Linked DNA regions of Homo sapiens: region 2 is linked to region 1. The links come from fine-mapping of genetic effects on gene expression. A gene starts in region 1. The other region holds a variant in brackets. All regions are shown on one strand. Distances are from middle to middle. Region 1 holds the start of BBS4 (Bardet-Biedl syndrome 4). Region 2 overlaps BBS4 (Bardet-Biedl syndrome 4).

Region 1 (5,374 bases):
GGCAGGGGGCCATGGCTCACGCCTGTAATCCCAACACTTTGGGAGACCGAGGCGTGCAGATCACAAGGTCAGGAGTTCAAGACCAGCCTGGCCAACGTGGTGAAACCCCATCTCCACAAAAATAAGCCAGGCATGGTGGTGAGGGCCTGTAACCCCAGCTACTCGGGAGGCTGAGGCAGAAAAATCACTTGAACCCGGGAGGCAGAGGTTCCACTGAGCTGAGATCACGCCACTGCACTCCAGACAGGGCGACAAAGTGAGACTCCGTCTCAAAAAAAAAAAAAAAAAAAAGATAAAATACCACTTCCTAAAAGGACAGAAATTCACATTTCCATGCATTGGTAACTTGAAAAGATGAAAATTACTATAAACGTAACACTACTAGCAATAAATTTGACAACAATGAAAACAGTTAACTTCAGGCTTAATTGCTAAGTCATATCGAAACAAAAGCTATTCTCTTTAAAACAGTATTAGACATTCAAATGTACATGACAATTCTGCCGTCACAGACTCAAGTTCATATTCTATTACACAAACACTTGTGATGAGCACTAGAGGATAAGCTATATTTGTAGCAATGTTATGTTACCCATTATCTTTTACACTTTAAGATTACTTAGAAGTATTTTCTTTTTTTTTTTTTTTTTTTTTTTGAGACGGAGTCTTGCTCTGTCACCCAGGCTGGAGTGGAAGTATTTTCTTTCCTATGTTTTTAATATTTAAAACCCAGTAACATTAACCATGCTATTTACTTTTTTTTTTTTTCTGAGACGGAGTTTTGCTCTGGATGCCCAGGCTGCAGTGAAATGGCACGATCTCGGCTCACTGCAACCTCTGCCTCCTGGGTTCTAAGCGATTCTCCTGCCTCAGCCTCCCTAGTAGCTGGGATTACCAGCGCCCGCCACCACGTCCAGCTAATTTTTTGTATTTTTTTAGTAGGGACAGGGTTTCACTACGTTGGCCAGGCTGGTCTCGAACTCCTGACCTCAGGCGATCCACCCACCTCAGCCTCCCAAGGTGCTAGGATTACAGGCGTGAGCCACTGAGCCTGGCCTATTTAATTATTTTAAAATCTGTTTTTTCTTTCTTTTTTTTTGAGAAGGAGTCTGTCTCTGTCGCTCATGCTGGAGTGCAATGGCATGATCTCGGCTCACTGCAACCTCCGCCTCCGGGGTTCAAGCGATTCTCCTGCCTCAGCCTTCCAGGTACCTGGGATTACAGGCGAGCGCCACGATGCCCCGCTAATTTTTGTATTTTTAGTAGAGACGGGGTTTCACCATGTTGGCCAGGATGGTCTCAAACTCATGACCTCAAGTGATCCACCCGTCTCGGCCTCCCAAAGTGCTGGGATTACAGGCGTGATGCACCGCGTCCGGCCTAGCTATTTTAAATTTCTTAGCTTAATAAAAATGTTTCGGCCGGGCGTGGTGGCAGGCGCCTGTATTCTCAGCTAATCCGGAGGCTGAGGCAGGAGAATTGCTGGAACCTGGGAGGCGGAGGTTGCAGTGAGCCGAGATCGCGCCATTGCACTCCAGCCCGGGCCGACAACAGCGACACTCCGTCTCAAAAAAAAAAGTTTCTGTCTTCAGAGTTTTCTAATTAGACTAGAATAATATGACTACTCTGCAAATGAGAGTAGAAAACAAACAAAAGGCCCTCTAACAATAACACTAACCTTGCTGCTTAGCCAAAACTAAGTTGTAAAACAGCCAAAGGCTGCTATTTGTACTGTTTTCCAGGGCGTTTTTCGAAAGACAATAAATTCCGAATACCTAAAATCATTCTAACAAATGGACAGAACAGGCTTTCAAACCCAACACTAAAGCAAGGTAAACAAAGCTTCACACTTGGCACTTTACCGAAATTAGATCCAATTATAGATATATGCCTCAAAAAATAGCGACTAGGTCATCCTGAATTCATCGGGTTCCTCTATATTAGCAGTTCTGTGGAGTGAACGCCCAACTCAGCCTTCAGATGAATTCCAAAACCGTACTTTCCTAAACTTAATCACCACAGAAAAAACACAGTCCCGCTCCACTGGCAGAAGGCAGTGACGCTGCAAGCTTCCAGGCATGTTAAATTCCCAATTCACGGGATTAACAGGAACTGTCTACACAAGTGCTAGTCATTACCTTCCAAACCCCCGAGACAGAAAAAGATGGCACTACGGTAAGAGCCATTACTGGTGAAAAGTCTCCCTTCTCCGTCCAGCGCACCCCAAGAGGGACTACAGTCCTAGAACAGGACCTGTGCTGCTAAGTATCCAGACTTGCCCCAGGCGACCAGTTCCCGGGACAGTAAAAAGGGGACCGTGTCGCCCCGCCCACCCTGAGACGCTCGGCACCCAGCTCCGCCTCTCTCCAGGAACCGCTGCATGGGACAAAAGCCACCCGCCAGCTTGCCTTGCCCTGCGGCCGGGCAACTAAAGAGAATCTCGGCGCTCACCGTCGCGACTCTCTCCTCAGCCATTTTAGCTCAGCCCACCGCTGCGCGGCCGGAAGTCGGCGGTTTCCCAGACGACGAGGCAAGCGGAAGTCGTAGGGCTGTGGAGGACTGTGAGGAAGCGGGGGAAGGAAGTAAATCGCCGAGTGACCTAAGGAATCAGGGGGAGGATTAGGGTCTGCTCCACAGAAGGCTTACCTCTGAAAGAGTCGGGGAGGGAATGCGCAGCCACTCGCTGCCTTTATCCCGAGAAGCCCCTAACACCCCTCGCCGTGGTCTGTACATGGTCTGTACCTCCGGCCGCGCTGGCTGGTAGGCCAGCCACCTGGGATGGCAGCCTAGTTCTCCCGCCACCTTACCCTGCCCTGACTCTAATCTGCATTTAATTCAGTCCTTCTTCCGGGAGATTTCGGCGGAGAATTTCTTTCTCGCCTTAGGTACAAAACTCCCCGTTTCTTGGCTGTCACTATCGAACTGAGGTACTCACCTTATCAGCTTCCCACTCTTGTTTACTCCAGAGTTTGCAAACATGCTCCTGGTGGGCTGCATTTGAACGGCAGTCTTTTGATTGGAAATATTTAAAAGTTAGGAGATTTCACAAGAAATCGGCCATGGGATAAAGAGACGACAGTCGGCGTTTTCTGCAAGGCAGTGAAATAGATCTGAATAGCGGCTGCGACTGTAGATAACTTCCCTTCCTAACATACTTAAGGCGTTCTCCATTACCTGTCTGGCCCCCGGTGCGGTGAATTAAATGTTTAGTGTTTCTAAACTAGGAAAACGTGTGGGCTTTGGAATCAAACATGAGTTCTGAATTTGACTACTGCATGACCTAAGCCCGTCGTTTCTTTGAGCCTCATTTATTAAAGTGCCGGGAGCTGTGTGATGAACAAAACGGAGGATCCCTGCACCTGAGCACTGACATTAGCCCCAATTCATACTTTTAAGTCTCGCCCTTGTAATTTAGACATAAAATCTGCCTCTCCCAATTCATTAACTGGGAAAGCATTTAAGACAAGTTTCTCCAGGCCTCTAAGAGAGGGAGAACCCCACTGACAATTAGAGTTACATAGAAGAAACAAGTACGGTAATCTATCCAAATACAAGGGGAAAGGACAGCAATAGAATAACAGCTCTTCTAAGTATTTCAGTAACACTCTCTCTTTTAATCTTTATAACAATCCCATGAGACTGTTGGTCTCCCACTTTTTTCAGATAAATACTCTGCCTTTCATTTATTAAAAATAAAATTTTCCAGCTTGGCCAGCATGGTGAAACCCCGTCTCTACTAAAAATACAAAAAATTAGTCGGGCATGGTGGTGCCCGCCTGTAATCGCAGCTACTCGGGAGGCTGAGTCAGGAGAATCACTTGAACCCAAGCGGCAGAGGTTGCAGTGAGCCGAGATCGCATTTCTGTGCTCCAGCCTGGGCGATAGAGGGAGACTCCGTCTAAAAAACAAAAATTTGCTGGGCTCGGTGGCTCACGCCTGTAATCCCAGGACTTTGTGAGGCTGAGGTGGGCAGATCACCTGAGGTCAGGAGTTCAAGACCAGCCTGGCCAACATGGTGTAACCCTGTCTCTACTAAAAATACAAAAAATTATCCGGGCGTGGTGGCCGGCTCCTGTAATCCCAGCTACTAGGGAAGCTGAGGCAGGAGAATTGCTTGAATCCAGGAGGTGGAAGTTACAGTGAGCTGAGATCATCCCATTGCACTCCAGCCTGGGCAACAAGAGCAAAACTCTGTCTCAAAAAAATTTTTTTTCAGAGGCAGGGGTCTCACTATTGATGTCCAGACTGGACTTGAACTCCTAGGCTCAAGTAATCCTCCTGAGGCAGGAAAATAGGGTCTGGAGGTAGGGAACATAAGGCCAATTCACACTTCAGCTATAACAGGTAATATTCTGTCCATAGGGCATAGGCCATAAATGTCTTTGTAACTTTACTTCATCTTCTCTATTTACATAAGGCATACCCGAAGTAACCATGGAATCCTCTGGGGTTATTTAAACTCCCCAAAATTCTGTAACGGAGCCACTGAACTTCTAAGCTCAGGCCCGCTCCCACACTGGAGTGTACTTTCATGTTCAGTAAATTCCTTGTCCCTTCCTTGCTTTGTTTGTGCATTTTGTCCAATTCTTTTTTCAAGACACCAAGAACCTGGACACCCTCCACCTTTAACACTTCCACCTCATCCTCTCAAGTAGCTAGGATTACAGGCACCAGTCACCATGCCTGGTGCTAAATTCTCCACTTTTCAGAGATTAATTAAACACCTTGCCTAAGTGAGCCGAGATCGTGCCACTGCACTCCAGCCTGGGAGACAGAGCAAGACTGTCTCAAAAAAAAAAAAAAAGATATAAAGATGAAAAATTATTAATTTCTAATCCACAGTGCTTAGTTTTTTTGTTTTTGGGACAGGATCTCGCTCTGTTGCCCAGGCGGAAGTGCAGTGGGACAATCACGGCTCACTGCAGCCTCTACCTCCCAGGCTCAAGTGATCCTCCCACCTCAGCCTCCTGAGTAGCTGGGACTACAGCTTCATGCCACCACACCCAGCTAATTTTTGTATCTTTTGTAAAGATGGGGTTTCATCATGTTACCTAGGCTGGTCTCAAGCTCCTGAGCTCAAGCAATCCAGCCAACTTGGCCTCCCAAAGTGTGGAATTACAGGCGTGAGCCACCCCGCCCAACCCACAGCGCTTAGTTTCATGCAGTTTTTCAGTATTCCAGTCCTCTTCATGGGCGGGGTTACTACGCAACACTGGCAGTCTAGGAAGAAATCATTCCAAAGGATCAAAAAAAAAAAAAAAAAAGGAGGAATTGAAGCTAATATCTTCTGCCCTATTCTTTTTATCTTCTACCCTATTTTTTCTTTTAACACATATTCTTTTTGCCACTTTCAAAAGACTGATTCTCAATCTGA
Region 2 (5,374 bases), 38 kb before region 1:
GCTTCCCCACTACAACATGACTACTCTCTTCAAAGCTGTAGGTCATGAACAATGGTCTCTATCTTCTCAGTAAGGCTTCAGATTTTAGCTGTCCACATTTCTCCCTTAGGAAATTTAGTGACCAAAGTCCTTGATCAGTTACTGGAAGAATGTTCCCCTTGGGATTTATGTATGCTATTCTCAAAGAGCTAACCTCTAGAAGGCAGGGGTCAGGGATCAGGGCTACTACCTAGCACCACAGAGGCACTGAACATGTTACATGGCTCCTTACTACTTGCCCAAATATACAGCCTCTTGATGACAAAAGTCTGTTCTGTAGCTTAACAAACCAAGGGATTTTTCTGTTTTAGACACAAAATATGGTTGAAGAAAATTCAGAAAGCAGTGCTGTGACTGATATAACCAGAAAATTTACTACCATGGTAGAAGACAAAGATGATTAACAAATTAATAGAAATCTAAGTTTAGTTCAGAATCTAATTATTAGGAATAATAAGCCTTGAACCACAGACCAGACATTCTATTAAGGGACCAAACAAATGAGACAAGGCATTTTGCTACAGCTATCCCATTTAAAAGTAACAACACAAGGCTGGGCGCAGTGGTTCACGCCTGCAATCCCAGCACTATGGGAGACCAAGGCAAGCAGATCACTTGAGGCCAGGAATTCGAGACCAGCCTGACCAACATGGTGAAACCCTGTCTCTGCTAAAAATACAAACATTAGCCAGGGGTGGTGGCGTGCTCGTGCAGTCCCAGCTACTCAGGAGGCTGAGGCATGAGAATCGCTTGAACCCAGGAGGCAGAGGTTGCAGTGAGGCGAGATCGCGCCACTGCACTCACCCCTGGGCGACAGAGCGAGACTGTTGAAATAAATGAAAGGAAGGAAAGAAAGGAAGGAAGAAAGGAAGAAAAGAAAGAAACAAAGAAAGATGGGAATGGGAGGGAGGGAAAGGATGGAAAGAAAAGAGAGAAAAAGGAAGGAAGGGAGAGAGGGAGGGGAAAGGGGAAGGGAGATGGGAAAAGGGGAAAGGGGGAAGGGAAAGGAGGAAGGGGAAAGGGGGAAGGGGAAAGGGGGAAGGGGGATGGGGAAAGGGGGATGGGGAAAGGGGGATGGGGAAAGGGGGATGGGGAAAGGGGGATGGGGAAAGGGGGATGGGGAAAGGGGGATGGGGAAAGGGGGATGGGGGAAGGGGGATGGGGGAAGAGGGAAGGAGGAAGGGGAAGAGGAAGGGGGAAGGGGGAAGGGGGAAAGGGAAAGGGGGAAGAGAAAAGGGGGAAGGGAAAACGGGGAAAGGGAAGGGGAAAACGGGGAAGGGGAAGGGAAAATGGGGAAGGGGGAAAAAAGATACTGGTCTCATGCTAATAAGGCCAAATGTTTTGTTTTGTTTTGTTTTGTTTTTTACTGAATCAGGAGATTTCTGTCCCTAATAATATCTCTGAAAACAGAAGATCTGTTATTAACATATGATACCAAAATGGCAGACTGTCGGCCAACTCTTAAATCTGTTATTTCCTTCTTCTTGAGTGCATGTCTGCCCACTTCCCTTGTAACTATCATGTAGTTTTGAACCATGGAATGTAAGCAGGAACGATGTGTGCAATTTCTGGGTCATTTAAAACTTATTACCAAGGCCAGGTGCAGTGGCTCACACCTGTAATTCCAGCACTTTGGAAGGCTGAGGCAGGAGGATCGCTTGAGCCCAGAAGTTTAAGACCAGCCTGGGCAACACAGCAAGACCCTGTCAACACAAAAACAGTTTTTTTTTTTAAATTAGCTGGGCATGGTGGCACATGCCTGTAGTCCCAACTACTTGGGAGGCTGAGGTAGGAAGATTGCTTTAGCCCAAGAGGTTGAGGCTGCAGTGAGCTGTGTTCTCCACTGCACTCCAGCCTGAGTGATGGAGTAAGATCATGTCTCTCTCTCTCTCTCTCTCTCTCTCTATATATATATATATATATAGCCAGATGCTTATTCCATGCTTAGCTTCCCAAACCATCTCCTTCCACCACAGCCTGGATGTGGATGTTACATTCAGCATCAACCATGCAGGTAAAGACAACAGCCTAAGGAATGGTGAGTTAATAAGGAAGAAACCTGGATCCCTGGCTGACCTTGTAGAATAGAGCTGCCCAGCTAACCTAAAGCAGCAGTCATCCTTATAGGTAAGAAAGAAACACAGTCTACCTTATTGAAGCTACTGGGAGCTCTTAAACTTCAGCTTAACCTTTAACTCATACAGTAAGTAATTAATCAAACATATTCACTCTTTTAGGCTTGGGAGTTCACATATCCACTCAATTTTTTTAGTTTCTCACTGTTTTAAAGGAAACAGATACACTTACTCCACTGCTTTCTTGTAGACTTCAATGGCCTTGTCCAAGTCTCCCTCCAGCAAGTGGATCTTCCCCAGCATTATATAAGTCAGATCGTGCCTATTAAGATTCAGGGCATTGTGCAACTGGTCTTGTGCCTGACAAGTTTAACAAAATAAAGAAAACCAAATCACTACCACTGAACGAACTATACCTTTATATGGCTAATGTAAAGACACTTTCTGCTGTATTGACATAGGAACATCACATTTCAGCAAACAGCCCCCACTACCCAAAGACCAAAACATACCAAA[A/T]CTGTCCTTGTTGAAAAGACAGCTGGCAACATGGGATATCTGCTTCTGGAGCCACTTGGAAGAATTTATACAAGACGATTAATCTTTCTGAATGTTTTCTGCCTGATATTCACACCTATGACTCATACTTCATAAGTCAAAAGGGCCATCATAGTACAGTGTAGAGTACTACACTAAACTAAATCCCAGCTGTAACACTGACCAAGTGCACAACCTTCCCTATGGTGGGCCAGGTTTCCCCATCAATGTGATGATAAATGAATAAATAGATTGTTCTCATTTATTCACCCAACTGCTTGCTGTTCTAGATGCTAAATATATTTGAGTTTATAAAACCAACTCCTTGCTCTGGAGGAGCTTACCTTCTCCTAGTAAACAAAAGGGCTTTGTTTAGTCATTCACAGATTCAACAAGCATTTATATAAATGCCAGGTATTGTATTTGCCTAGCCTGTTAGCTGTACAGTAAAATCTAAATATATTTCTTCTCAGCACAGATCCAACCAAAGACAAATCCTTCTTTTCCCCTGACTCAGAATAATCCTGTGAATAGAAATGTGCCTGTTTGAAATTGTCTCTGAAGAGAAAAATCTCCTAACCAAGTATATAAAACTATAGATCCATCTACAAAACCTAAGGGGCCCACTAAATGTATTTTATGTATATATATTGTTATCTCAGGAGAAAAGTTACTTTTACACCCCAACTGCTAATGTGCATATTTTTTTTCACACCAGTGTGGGATACTAGTTACACCAGTCTGCAAATTGACACAAACTAAACATTGTCAAATGGGTACTAACCAATTCAGATTCTCAGTCCTGGTGGCATCGGAGAAAGGAGAATAAAACTTCACAATCACTAACTGTGAGCTCTATGAAGGAAACTACCCAACGCTCTCATCACTAAGTTTTAGAGCTCTCAGTAATTTTGTCTACTCCTCAATTATGATATATACTTTTTCTTACCTGAGTACCAAATTTGAGGTAAGCTCAACTTGTCTTCTCTGATATAGGAGTCTATAGCTTAATCACAGTGAAATATAATTTCTCATCATGGAAAATAACTATAAAATTAAAACTGAAAACTCAGAAATCAGATCCACTTAAAATTTAAAATTTATTTTCAATGACCCTAAAAACTAAGTTGCCGTCAGGGCATGGAGATAGCTCACATGGTCATGATCACACCTTTAAGACTTAAGGGTCCACTTTTTGATATGTATGTTTTATTAAGCATCTGTTTCTAAACTGGGAAATTTAACTGGAGGTAGAGAAAAAGAAGAAAGGAGAAAAACTGCCATTCCCTCATATTTCTAGAACTTTCCATGTTCTTATTACAAGCAGAAAACAACAGATGAATAATGACAAGTGAGAATTAAAACAGAAAAAAATGTATAAAGGTACTTTCAATTTTCAGTTCCAAAAACCTCTGCAAGCACTAGGGATAATACCAAATGAGCAATGTAACAACTTCTGCAACAAGTGCACCCTCAGTGAAATCTATCACCACTTCTATAAATTACCTTGTTGAACTGCTTCAGGTATATGTAGCAAACTCCTAGGTTATGGCTGATCTCCTAGGCTCATAAAAAAGAAGGAAAACAACTCAGGTGTAATTCCACAGTAAGTATTAGAGTGAAACAACAGACATCTAGAGATTGTTATTGCTCGGCAAGGTTTAAACTTTAAACTATGCATTACAGTCAGCTTTTTATTAGAGTTCATACTCAAATTAATTGTTAAAAATAAGTTCCTCAACATAAAAAAATACAGATTATAAGAAATAAAAGCAGAATAAACAGGTGATCTTCCTGGATCTATGGGGAACCCTGGGGCACATACCCAGCCCATCCCCATACCTTTTTTCTTTAAGAGTTGCCCATCACCCATACCCTTTGCTCCTTCTTCTCAGGAGAGACTACCCACAGCCCCTGCTGAGAGGGCTGCTAGCCACACATTTCCGCCCTTAAGGCAACACAGTTGGATAGTGACACCTGACACAACTGAAGTCCTTTCCCTAGGAATCTGGAATTGGAAGAGAGCTAGTTAGTTACAAGTACTAAATTTACTAGGTGATGTGAACTTGAGGACTGACAGCGCCACCTGGAGTCTGCTGTGATGGAATACATGTAATTGGAGCCATCTGCAGAAGTCTAGAGCTGACATGGGAAAACTATGGTCCATGGGCCAAATCCATTCCCTGCCCTTTTTTATAAGTACAGATTCATTGGAACACAGACACAACTATTGTTTTTGTATGGCTCTTTTGCATTAGAACTGCAGAGTTAAGTCGTTGCAACAGAGTCTGTATGAAGCTATACAAATTAAAATATTTATTAACTGGCCCTTTACAAAAAAAGTTTGCCAACCTTTGATCTACAGAAAGAAAAGATGAAGCAGAAAAGGCAGAGTAGCTACCTTGGATGCTGAAGCGTTCCAGTTCTGCTTCACTAAAAGACCAACCTGCATCTCTTGATACTGTTTTATGGACTCTCAAATTCCTTTATAATAAACCTCCCTTTATTTAAGGTAGCTTTGGAAAAGGAGAAAGCAAGGGTAAGGAAAATGCTCTTGGGAAACATAGTAAGAACTACCCTATTAGTAGTGGAGATGTGTCCCTGTCTGAGGAAACATGGACCCCCAGGCTCAGAGATAACAACTGATTTAATGTTTTCCAAGTCTCCAAAAATAGTAAAAACAACAAAACAGCAACCATTGGTTGAGCACCTACTAACATCAGGCT

Evidence for each region. PIP is the estimated chance that this variant, and not a neighbour inherited with it, causes the effect.
Region 2: its variant is fine-mapped to the expression of BBS4 in whole blood (TOPMed, PIP above 0.99).

Annotation. Positions count from the first base shown.
Region 1 is chr15:72,683,329-72,688,702 of GRCh38, reverse strand. It overlaps BBS4 (Bardet-Biedl syndrome 4), which reads right to left and starts at 2,496. Exons shown (of 16, transcript NM_033028.5): 1 at 2,452-2,496. The coding sequence starts at 2,475. HIGD2B (HIG1 hypoxia inducible domain family member 2B) reads left to right here and starts at 2,521. Exons shown (of 3, transcript NM_001350932.3): 1 at 2,521-2,885.
Region 2 is chr15:72,721,628-72,727,001 of GRCh38, reverse strand. It overlaps BBS4 (Bardet-Biedl syndrome 4), which reads right to left. Exons shown (of 16, transcript NM_033028.5): 7 at 4,155-4,208; 8 at 2,347-2,474. Among named protein-coding and RNA genes, the nearest start is that of BBS4, 38 kb to the right of the region's middle. The variant A/T (reference allele first, on the strand shown) is at 2,631.